Linked DNA regions of Homo sapiens: region 2 is linked to region 1. The links come from fine-mapping of genetic effects on gene expression. Tissue or cell type: caudate. Region 1 holds a variant in brackets; the other region holds the start of a gene. All regions are shown on one strand. Distances are from middle to middle. Region 1 holds the start of AP1S1 (adaptor related protein complex 1 subunit sigma 1). Region 2 holds the start of NAT16 (N-acetyltransferase 16 (putative)).

The links. PIP is the estimated chance that this variant, and not a neighbour inherited with it, causes the effect.
Region 2: it holds the start of NAT16, and the variant in region 1 is the best candidate, but not a certain one, in a credible set for the expression of NAT16 in caudate (GTEx, PIP 0.53).

What each region holds. Positions count from the first base shown.
Region 1 is chr7:101,151,417-101,156,785 of GRCh38, reverse strand. AP1S1 (adaptor related protein complex 1 subunit sigma 1) reads right to left here and starts at 2,310. Exons shown (of 5, transcript NM_001283.5): 1 at 2,269-2,310; 2 at 14-192. The coding sequence starts at 2,271. RefSeq lists enhancers at 1-425, 1,404-1,904, 2,224-2,518 and a silencer at 2,329-2,568. The variant G/C (reference allele first, on the strand shown) is at 3,199.
Region 2 is chr7:101,177,393-101,182,761 of GRCh38, reverse strand. NAT16 (N-acetyltransferase 16 (putative)) reads left to right here and starts at 2,469. Exons shown (of 4, transcript NM_198571.3): 1 at 2,469-2,720. RefSeq lists silencers at 15-232, 2,300-2,594 and an enhancer at 1,966-2,688.

The sequences.
Region 1 (5,369 bases):
GGTGGGGAGTCACCTCTTATAGACAACTTTGAGGTCCCTCCACTCCAGGAAGCTGCACATCTTGGGCTTTCGAGCCAGGACAACCTGCATGAGCTCGCGCACCATCTTCTTCCGTTCCTTGTCCGAAGTGGCCAGGTACCATTTTTGCAGCCGCAGTTTTCCCTGCCGGCTGAATAATAGCATGAACCGCATCTGTGGGGGATGGGAGGGCAGAACCGAGGGTAACCACACATTCCCCAAACTTATCTCCAGCTAATTCTTCTCTACTTTCTTCCAACATCCAGCCCCTTGCTCTCAAGGCTGGGTGTTTCCACCAGCAGGGGGAAGTCAGAGCTTCTGAGTCTGTCAGCTGGGTTCAAATCCTGGCTCTACTAGTTATGCAAGGCCTTGGCCCAATTACTACTGTAAGTCTCTGGGCCTCAGTTTCCTTATGTGTAAAATGGACATTGTACCTGCCTTGCACAGTTGTTAGGTGAGACTAAATGATTTGATATATGCAAGTCCCTAGCACAGGCAGGCAGTATAACATGTTAGCTATTATTATTATTATTTTTGAGACAGAGTCTCTCTCTGTCGCCCAGGCTGGAGTGCAGTGGCGCAATCACTGTTCAGTGCAATCTCCGCCTCCCAAGTTCCAGCGATTCTCCTGCCTCAGCCTCCTGAGTAGCTGGGATTACAGTCACGTGCCATCACGCCCGGCTAATATTTGTATTTTTAGTAGAGATGTGGTTTCACCATGTTGGCCAGGCCCTGGTCTCGAACTCCCGACCTCAGGTGATCCACCCACCTAGGCCTCCCAAAGTGCTGGCATTAAGGCATGAGCCACTGCGCCCGGCCGTTAGTTATTACTATTATTACCATGATTCCCTGACCTCTTGCTTTCTGGTCTGCTTTCTAAAGGTAAGTAAAATGCCTAGCACAGTGACAAGACGACAGTAACCGACGCCAAAGAAATGCCTGTTCTCTTCCACCCTCTCTCTATCCATCACCATGCTGAAATCTGGTATTTTGTCCCTGGAGAAGCTACCTCAATTTTCCACCCCATCATAGCCATAAGATCTTAATGATCTCCCAAACATATCATCCTCCAGTGCCAGGCCTATGCCCAGGGGTATCCTCCTCTGTAGTATGTATCTCCAACACCACACAGGGTATGCAGATGCCCAAATCCTATCTTCCTCTCTGCAGGCACCCAGGCATTTGGTCTTCGACATTTCTCTTTAACTTTTCTTCCTTTTAGGGTGCCTCCTGCTAAGCGCCCACTCCTCCCCAGACACCAGGTGACCAATTTCCCTCAGTTAGGGCCCCGCCACCCAGGGGGTTCCCCTAAAAGAATGTCTGCAGAACAGACAGCAAGCTGGGTCAAGTGGGATGGAAGACAGAACCCTCACTGCCCAGTGTACCCCAGCTTCCCAGTTCCGGGGGGTCTGGGCCACATCCTGGAGTCTTCTCCTTACCCCAGTAGCTCTTCTATTCATGGACATGCCCAGGCTTGGAATCCCTGGGTGTGTGGCACTGTACTAGCTTAGTAAGTGAAAAATCAGAATTCAGGAGAACTGATTTTTTTGGTGGAGGGGAAAAGAGGGGCGCTGGGGAGCCTCGTGCGGCGCTCAAATAGGGGGGTGGGGAGCAAGCAGGAAGACGGAAGGCCTGGATTCCGGAAAGAGAATGGGAAGGGGGGCAGAGAGCCCCGGAGCCCGGGATCCCAAAGCCTGGGTCCCTCGGAGAAAAACCACGAGTCCACTTCGCTTCCCTACCTGGGCCCAGCCTCTAGGCAAGCACGGCCACGAACGCAGTAGGGCGCTCCCTTTTCCGACCCGGAAACTCCCCTCCCACACCCCTCTCCCCACCCGGGTCCCCGCTCCCGCCTGTGCAGCCCGGGAAGGGGGTCTCGGTGACTGGTGACCCCCGCTCCCTCCCTCAGCAAAGAGACTCCCGCAACCCTCTGCTTCGGGCGGCTTCCCTGCAGCGGGGATCGAGGGACCCCAGGGGCCAAGACCAGAGCGCCCCTCCCGGCTCGGGACGGCCCCGCCGCCCCTTCGTCAGCCCCCGCTCGCCCTGCAAATGCGCCCCCTCCCCGCCCCTCTCCCGAATGCCACCTCCCCCTCTTCCTCCCGAGCCCGGCTCGCCCACCCGCCGAGGCAAGGGAGGCCTCTGAGGACCAGAGGGAAGACAGGGCGGTTCACCCCGAGGGCGGCCCCCGAGGACCCCCGCAGGTGCAGCCCACGCCCCTCGCTTCCCCCTCCCCTCCCTCTTCGCACAGCCTACCATCCTGCAGCCTCCGGCTCGGCGCGTCCCACTTCGGCCACCGTAGGCGCCAGTCCCACTCCCTTTCTTATCCTTTCTCCTGCTGCCCTCCCTCTCGCCCGAAGCCCCGCCCCGTCCCGCCCAGGCTCTGACTCCCGGCGCGCCACGCACTGCGCAGGCGCCGACGCCGCGGGGAGCGCGGGCGGGGCTGGAGGCGGAGAAGCGGAAACCATGGCAACCAGGTCCTTGACTGCAGCTTCTAGGAGCCCGGTCGTCATGGTAACGCGGCTGTCCTGTGGGCTGGTTGGAGGATGGGGGAGGAGGACAATAAGGTCCTCGCGCTTTGGAGCCTTGTGGGGCAAAAAGGCGGGAAAAGGGGTGAGAGGTGAATGGGACGATCATTGGAGTTCGAAGCAGCAGGCAGGACTCCTGGAAGGGGAGTGGGCCGTGAAAAGGGAGCAGGGTGGGAATTAAGTGTAGGGGAGGAGGAGTGACCTGGAAAACAGAAAGACAAAGGGTCATGAGAAAAGTATAGAACCCAAGCTGAATATCTATTGAAAGCGTGATAGATACACCCCTCTAGTTTTTTTCTTTTTAGAGACAGGGTCTGGCCGCGTCACCCAGGTTGGAGTGCAGTGGTGGGATCGTGACTCTCTGCAGCCTTGAACTCCTGGCCTCAAGCGATCCTCCCGCCTCAGCCTCCTGAGTAGCTGGGACTACAGACGCACACCGTCATGCCCAGCTAATTTTTAATTTTTTTTTAGTAGAGACGGGGGTCTTACTATGTTGCCCAGGCTGGTCTCGAACTCTTGGGTTCAAGAGACCCTCCCGCCTCGGTTTCCCAAACTGCTGGGATTACAGGCGTGAGCCACCGCGCCTGGCTTCTGATTTTACAGTAAGAGAAATGTGTAGAAAAAGAATAAAAGAGAAAAGGAGAGGCTGCTATAAAAG[G/C]CATGTAAGGAGAAGGGGGAGGAACGTGAACTGAGGCAAAAGGGGAAGAAATAAAGAGCGTCTTAAAAGGTTAACTTGGGTCAAAACTCAAAAAGGGACAGATGTCACCCAAATCTCAGTGTGAAGATGAGGTGGATGTACGTTGTAATATGGGCTTTTAAACTGAATGTGTGTGTGTGTCTACATGTTACTGGAAAAAGGGGTCCCGATCCAGACCCCAAGAGAGAATTCTTGGATCTCATGCAGGAAGGAACCCAAAGCAAGTCGTAGAGTGCGATGAGAAGAGAGAGTTTATTGAAAGCTACACCCTTACGGAGTAGGGCGTCCTCAGAAAGCAAACAGAGGAACACACTGTCTTAAGTTTTTCTTTTCTTTCTTTCTTTTTTTTTTTCTTCTTTTTTTGAGACAGGGTCTTACTCTGTTGCCCAGGCTGGAGTGTAGTAGCATGATCATAGTTCACTGCAGCCTCCACCTCCTGAGCTCAAGCGATCCTCCCACTTCAGTCTCCCAAGTAGCTAGGACTACAGGCATGCACCACCACAGCCAGCTAATAGTTGTATGTTTTGTAGACACAGGGTATTGTCATGCTACCCAAGCTGGTCTGGGACTCCTGGACTCAAGGTATCCACACTCCTCAGCCTCCCAAAGTGTTGGGATTACAGGTATGAGCCACCGCCCCTGACCTTTAAGTTTTTCTTATATAGGGGTCTTGTTTTTGTAGAGACTAAACTAAGCCGAGTCAATGTGCAGATGGGCCAATGGCATGACAAAATTTATTATTCTGTTAATTTAACTATCCTTGACATTCTAGTAGGTAAGTACATCAAAGCAAAACTTAATTATCTTTCTTCCTTTTTTTTTTTTCTTGAGACAGAGTCTTGATCTGTTGCCCAGGCTGTAGTGCAGTGGCGTGATCTCAGCTCACTGCAACCTCCACCTCCTGGGTTCAAGCCATTCTTGTGTCTCAGCATCCCTAATAGCTGGATTACAGCTACATCCTTTCACCTCAGCCTCCCAAGTAGCTGTGACTGCAGGCATGAACCAGTGCATCCAATTAATTAAAAAAATATTTTGTTGTAGAGATGGGGTCTCACTACTGGGATTGTAGGCATGTGCTACGACACCCAGCTAATTTTTGTATCTTTAGTAGAGAGGGGGTTTTGCAATGTTGGCCAGGCTGATCTCGAACTCCTGGCCTAAAGCAATCCTGCCTTAGCCTCCACACCCAGCCAGAACTATAATTATCTTAAAGGCACATATTGTTATGGGTATTGGGGCATCTGGATTTTCTGTAGTTGGAGGAGTCTGTCCTTGCAGGTATCTTTAAGCTGTTTCCCCAACTGTAAACAGCTTTGGGTTGTGACTGACAAGGAATGTGCCTTGTTAGTTTCAAGATGGAGCTGAACTTAAAATGGCTTTATGCTGGCTCTCTGAGGCTCCTGCTTCCCTAGCACAAATGATAAAGTAAAGAGGTCTGGATAGAAGGATAAGAGAAAATCTTAAATTTTGTCATGCAGAAAAGTTAATGGTAGATAATTGTTGGCAACTAATGTGCTATTATTTTTGAGTAGCACATGATGCAATTGTTGGTAAGGCCTCACCTCCTGTCTCCACTTTATTTATTTATTTTGTGTATTTATTTTTTTGAGATGGAGTCTTGCTCTGTTGCCCAGGCTGGAGTGCAGTGGCACAATCTCGGCTCACTGCAACCTCCACCTCCCGGGTTCAAGTGATTCTCCTGATTCAGCCTCCTGACTCAGCCTTCTGTCTCAAAAAAAAAAAAAAAAAAAGAGGACAGTAGTACATATCTTGCAAGGTGGTTCTGAGGATTAGAGGTAATGTATAGCAAGTATCTGTAAACACTTCATAATGGTACCTATCATTTCCTCTTCCCAGACTCTTCCTTTTTTTTTTTTTTTTTTGTTGTTGTTGTTGTTGTTGAGACGGAGTCTCGTTCTTGTTGCCCACGCTGGAGTGCAGTGGCACGATCTCGGCTCACTGCAGCCTCCACCTCCCCGGATCAAGCAATTCTCCTTCCTCAGCCTCCCAAGTAGCTGGGACTACAGATATCTACCACCACACCCCGCTAAGTTTTATTTTTTTAGTAGAGATGGGGTTTCACCACGTTGGCCACGCTGGTCTCAAACTCCTGACCTCGAGTGATCTGCCTG
Region 2 (5,369 bases), 26 kb before region 1:
GAGGAAAACCGGCTCTCCTAGATGTGTGAGAATGAAGCCTGGAACAAGATGGCTTTCCATTGGCCCAGTGAGCTGTTTGGAGGCGGGACTTACAGTGACAACTTGCTTCTGAGTGGCTTGGACTTAAGGGGAGGGGCCGAAACGTTGGTAAACTTTTAATTCTGAATGGCTGATGGAACTGGAAGTGTGTGAGGGTTGGGCCAATCCAAGAGTTTCTGTTGGTGGAAGGTGTGGCTTCTGGCGAAAGGGGCGGGATTAGCATATGATGGTCTCTCCCTTTGGCCACTAGTGATTTTTTCCTTGAAACCTGTAACTTTTTGAAGTTCTTTCCCATCATGAAGCATATGGCACCTTAACTGCAATCTGCAGTTTGGTGAGACGCACAGTGTGTTAGCACTTTCAGAGATCAGAAATGGGGGGAAGTCCTATTAAAAAATGTTGAGTAACTTGTCAGTTGCATTTTGCCCTGCCTCAGCCTAGAAGTCGGGATTCTCATCCCTTTAACCCTTGGTGTTATTCCTGTTTAGCCCTTTAACCCTCGGTTGGAATTCCTGTATGTGGGATTCCAGGAACATGACCTTCCTTCTTATTGCATTGGCACATCCAATGGGATCAGTTTGCCTGATTATGAAGTTATCACCTCGGAAAGTAAAGAAAGAAAAAATGGAATAAGATGGGTGAACAATGAATTTTGGGGTGGGGGAGAGGGTAGGGGGAGCATGAGAGCTGGGCGGCCCCTGGAGAGAGGACTCCAGCAGACCTTGAAAGGCCTTAACATTATTCCCTGCATCGGCCGGGCACGGTGGCCCACGCCTGTAATCCCAGCACTTTGGGAGGCCGAGGCGGGCGGATCACGAGGTCAGGAGATCGAGACCATCCTGGCTAACACGGTGAAACCCCGTCTCTACTAAAAATACAAAAAATTAGCCGGGGGTGGTGGCGGGCGTCTGTAGTCCCAGTTACTGGGGAGGCTGAGGCAGGAGAATGGCATGAACCCGGGAGGCAGAGCTTGCAGTGAGCCGAGATCGCGCCACTGCACTCCAGCCTAGGCGAGAGTGAGACTCCTCTCAAAAAAAAAAAAAAAAAATTATTCCCTGCATCTCCAAAGCAGTTTACAGTTGCTAAAGGGCTTTGTCCATCACTTTCCTGGCTCCTTACAGGGTAGAACTGAAGGTGTTCTGATCTCACTTTATTTATTATTTTATTTTATTTTGAGTTGGATTCTCGCTCTGCCGCGCAGGCTGGAGTGCAGTGGCACGATCTCGGCGCATTGCAATCTCTGCCTCCCGGGTTCAAGCGATTCTCCTGCCTCAGCCTCCCAAGTAGCTGAGATTACAGGTGCAGGCCACTGTGCCCGGCTGATTTTTGTATTTTTAGTAGAAACGGGGTTTCGCCATGTTGGCCATGCTGGTCTTGAACTCCTGACCTCAGGTGATCCTCCCACCTCGGCCTCCCAGAGTGCTGGGATTACAGGCATGAGCCACCGTGCCCGGCCAGGCCAGGCTAATTGTTGTATTTTTAGTAGAGACGGGGTTTCACCATGTTGGCCAGGCTGGTCTCGAACTCCTGACCTCAAGTGATTCCCCCGCCTCGGCCTCCCAAAGTGCTGGGATCACAGGCTTGAGCCACCGCACCCAGTCTTGAGCTCACTTTATAGGTGGGATGGAGAACCTTGTAGGAGTTAAGAGCCTGGGCCACCGCCTTATTAGAGCAGGGGCAGCGCTGCACCCACCCGGGTCCCAGCTCCACACTTCCCTCTTCCTCCCCAGCCACCAGGATCAGCGTGGGGTGCAGCGCCTCCTGAGTGCAGAGGTCTGTGTGAATGTGCCTGGGTGTGCGCTGTGTACCTGGAGGTCTTTCTGCCTGCTGTCCCGTGGGGTACATTGTGGATTTAGGGGCCTTGTGCACCCGGGGAACCAGGGTGCTCAGGCACCCACGCAGTGGTGAGAAGATGGAGAGATCTTGGCCTCCCTCTGCCCTTTTCAGCCTTTCAACTTCTGTCTCTTGATGTCTCTTCGCCTTCCCGGTGTTCTAGGGTTTCTGATTCCCTCTATCAGTTTCCGGGGACGAAGGCTCGGAGTCCCCTTCCCAGCCGCTCTTATAATGGAGAGAGGAGATTCCATTGAGGGGTGGCTCCTGGAGGAGGGGTACTTCAGGGCAGTGGGGGACCCCCGGACAGAGAACGGAGGTGCTGGGCGTGGGGTGGGGAGATAACTAAGCCAGCAACACCAGCATCACCACCACCAAAACCCGAGACACCACCATCCTCAGTCCCACTCCCCAGCCGGGACACAGGGCGGAGTCTCGCCAGTAGGGCTTGAGGCCACCCAGCTGCCCAGGGCGCACCCCGACCCCCGGCCCCGCCAGCAGGGCACGAGTCCGCTCCGGATCCGTCCCGGGTTTCTTCCGCGTCGCCGGGGTCTCCGCCCCTCGAAGCTGCCGCCGGAGCGTCGCCGGGGGAGCCACGCGTGCCACCCGAACCCCTGAACCGATGGGCGCCCCGGCCCGCGTCGCCAACGGAGCTGCGGCGCTGCCCCAGCGCTGACCGACGTTAGAGTCGGGCTCCGACAGCGCGGCCGAGTCCCCGCGCGTCATCCTCCTTTGACTCTTGGGGGCTCCAAAGGGACCTCTCTCTTGGCACCGGGGGTGTCTGCGCCCGCCGCCCGCCCCGCTTGGCTTTGCGGCATCTCGGCCCTGGCTCCAGCTCCGGCTCCGGCGAGGTAGGGGGGCGGCCGGGCCTGGGGACTGGGGAGGGGGCTAGCGTGCTCCTCCACCGCAGAATGGGGCAGCAGAAGGCCACCGCCCCTCAGGGGGACCAAGCGGCTGCGCCCCCTTCTGCCCAGCCCCTCCCAGTCCGAAGACCCAGAAAACTGAGTCAGAGGCTGCGCTTCAGGTGTCCAGAAGCGCTCCCCCGCCCCCCTCTGTTGCCATGTCGCTCCCACCTGTCCCCAGGGTCCGGCGCCCAGGGGAACCCCCGCCAAGCAGATCGCTCCCTTTGCAATCTCCCTCTCCCCCAAGCCCAAGCCCCCAATCCGGGGTAGAGGCAGAGGGAAGACCCTCACTCGGGAAGACCCTGCAGGACAGCCCCCCCTTCTCCACTACTGTGGCCCTCTGGGGCCCTCCCCCCACCCCCTTTGGCTGGGCCATCTTCCTCGGCCCCTGCCTCTGCCCACCCCCTAGGCCTTCTCTCCCGCCCCCACTTCATCGCCTCTCCCCGTCTCTGTTTCCAAGGTTGTTCTCTTACGGCCTTTTTTCTGACTTTCTTTTCCCCTTGACCCCTTCCCCTCCACGGATCCCCGCCCCCCATACCCCGGGGCGAAGGGGGTGTGTCACGCTGCTTTCTATTTACAGTGTCCCAGGGGAGGGGGTGCGTGCTAGGATTTTTTTTTTTTCATCTGCTGGGCCCAGAGTCACGAGGTGTCATGTCTGTGATTCGGTGTCGAAGCCTCCTCCGGCTTCCCTGCCTGTCCCCTGCGGCCGCATCTCCTGTCCGCTTTTGTCTGCTCTCTGCCTCCATTCCCGTCCTTTTCGCTCTCATCTTTGGGCGCTTTGTGCAGCTGCCTTCTTTGTCTCCGCCTCTCCGGCGACTGGGCTCTCCCTTCCCTCCCTCTCCTCCCTCCCCCAGTGTCAAGAAGCCATCGGCCTCAAGGGCATCGATATTTCAGGTGTGTGGGGTGTGGTGGGAGTGGGGTGCGGGTGGGTGGGCTGCCGGCATTCCCAGCTCTGACTCCGATCATGCCCAGCTATGACTCTGATCACCCCCTCCCCAAAGAGATCATTCATATTTATGAGATTTAAAGAATGTCCCCAAGGATGTGGGGATAGACATGAAGAGAGAAATGTTATTCCTCTTTTTTTTTTTTTTTTTTTTTGACAGCGTTTCACTCTTGTTGCCCAGGCTGGAGTGCAATAGCGTGATCTCGGCTCACCACAATCTCGGCCTCCCGGGTTGAAGCGATTCTCCTGCCTCAGCCTCCTGAGTAGCTGGGATTACAGGAATGCGCCAGCACGCCCGGCTACTTTTGTATTTTTTTTTTTTTTTTTTTTTTTTAGTAGAGAGAGGGTTTCTCCATGTTGGTCAGGCTGGTCTCCAACTCCTGACCTCAGATGATCCGCCTCCCTTGGCTTCCCAAAGTGGTGGGATTATAGGCATGAGCCACCACGCCCGGCCAAGAAATGCTGTCCCTCTTTTAGGAGGGCGCTTGGTCCAGGAGATACCTGGACTACATTTCTGACAGTGCCCTGGACTCACCAGCTGCCTCCGCCTCTGCCTAGACATCTGATGAGAGTTAAGAGTTCCACGGAGCCAGGCTGGAGGGTGCTGGACTGGAGGGTAGGAAGTGGTCACCATGTGAAGCAAGGGTTACAGGCTAGCCCACAGCTTTGGCTTGGCCTGGAGTCGCTGACCTGTTTTATTACTCGCCTCCTCCAAGGTTTAAGGACCTGGGAACCTTTGTTCATGTCCCCCAAAATGGAACAGGGGTAGAGGTGGTGCCTGGGTTGAAAGATGGGGGATGCATTGGAAAGTTCTTCCCTCCCCATGACTCTGGGAACTCCCCACGTCCACCCCTACCCTTACCTCCCACGACAAACAACCTTATCTGAGACGTATAAATGCCATTTGGAAAGGGTCTCCCCACTGTAAGCAAGGGAAGGAGACTGGAGCCAAATGTCTTGAATGAGTCAGGTGGGTTCCAGTCTACCGGTTGCTCACAACTTATCACCTTTGGGGGTAGTGAGGGTATTGCTGGAAGCACCACTGAACCACTAGCTTGCATTTTCCTGGGACCCATGAACAGCTGGTTCATGTTGCCTGGAGCTGCAGATGGAGTCAGGAGCTAACTTGCTGTTCTCTGGGACCCATTGTCCTCAGAGCGTGGTGCAAGAGGTCTGGGGCTTGGGCTGGTTCCAGGCATGGAGGCTTGTGTGTTGGCATAGGGATTGCTGACAGTGTGGGCCAGACAGTGAGGGAGTTCCTAGCAACCGCATCTCTGGTTCTTCATCAGCTTATCCCACCTGGGCCCTTCAACTCCTGTTCAAGGACCCAGTAGTTCCCCTCCTTGCTCTTCAGGCTGGGGTCAGAGATCCAGATACACTAAAAACAGATCTTGGCTGGGCATGGTGGCTCACACCTAATATCCCAGCACTTTGGGAAGTGGAGGTGGGAGGATCACTTGAGCCCAGGAGTTCAAGACCAGCCTGGGCAAAATAGTGGGACCCCCATCTCTACAAAAAATTAAACATTTTAGAAAGTAGCCAGGTGTGGTGGCACATGCCTGTAGTCCTAGCTACTCGGGAGGCTAAGGTGGGAGGATCGCTTGAGCCCAGGAGGTTGAGGCTGCAGTGAGCTACGATGATGCCATTGCACT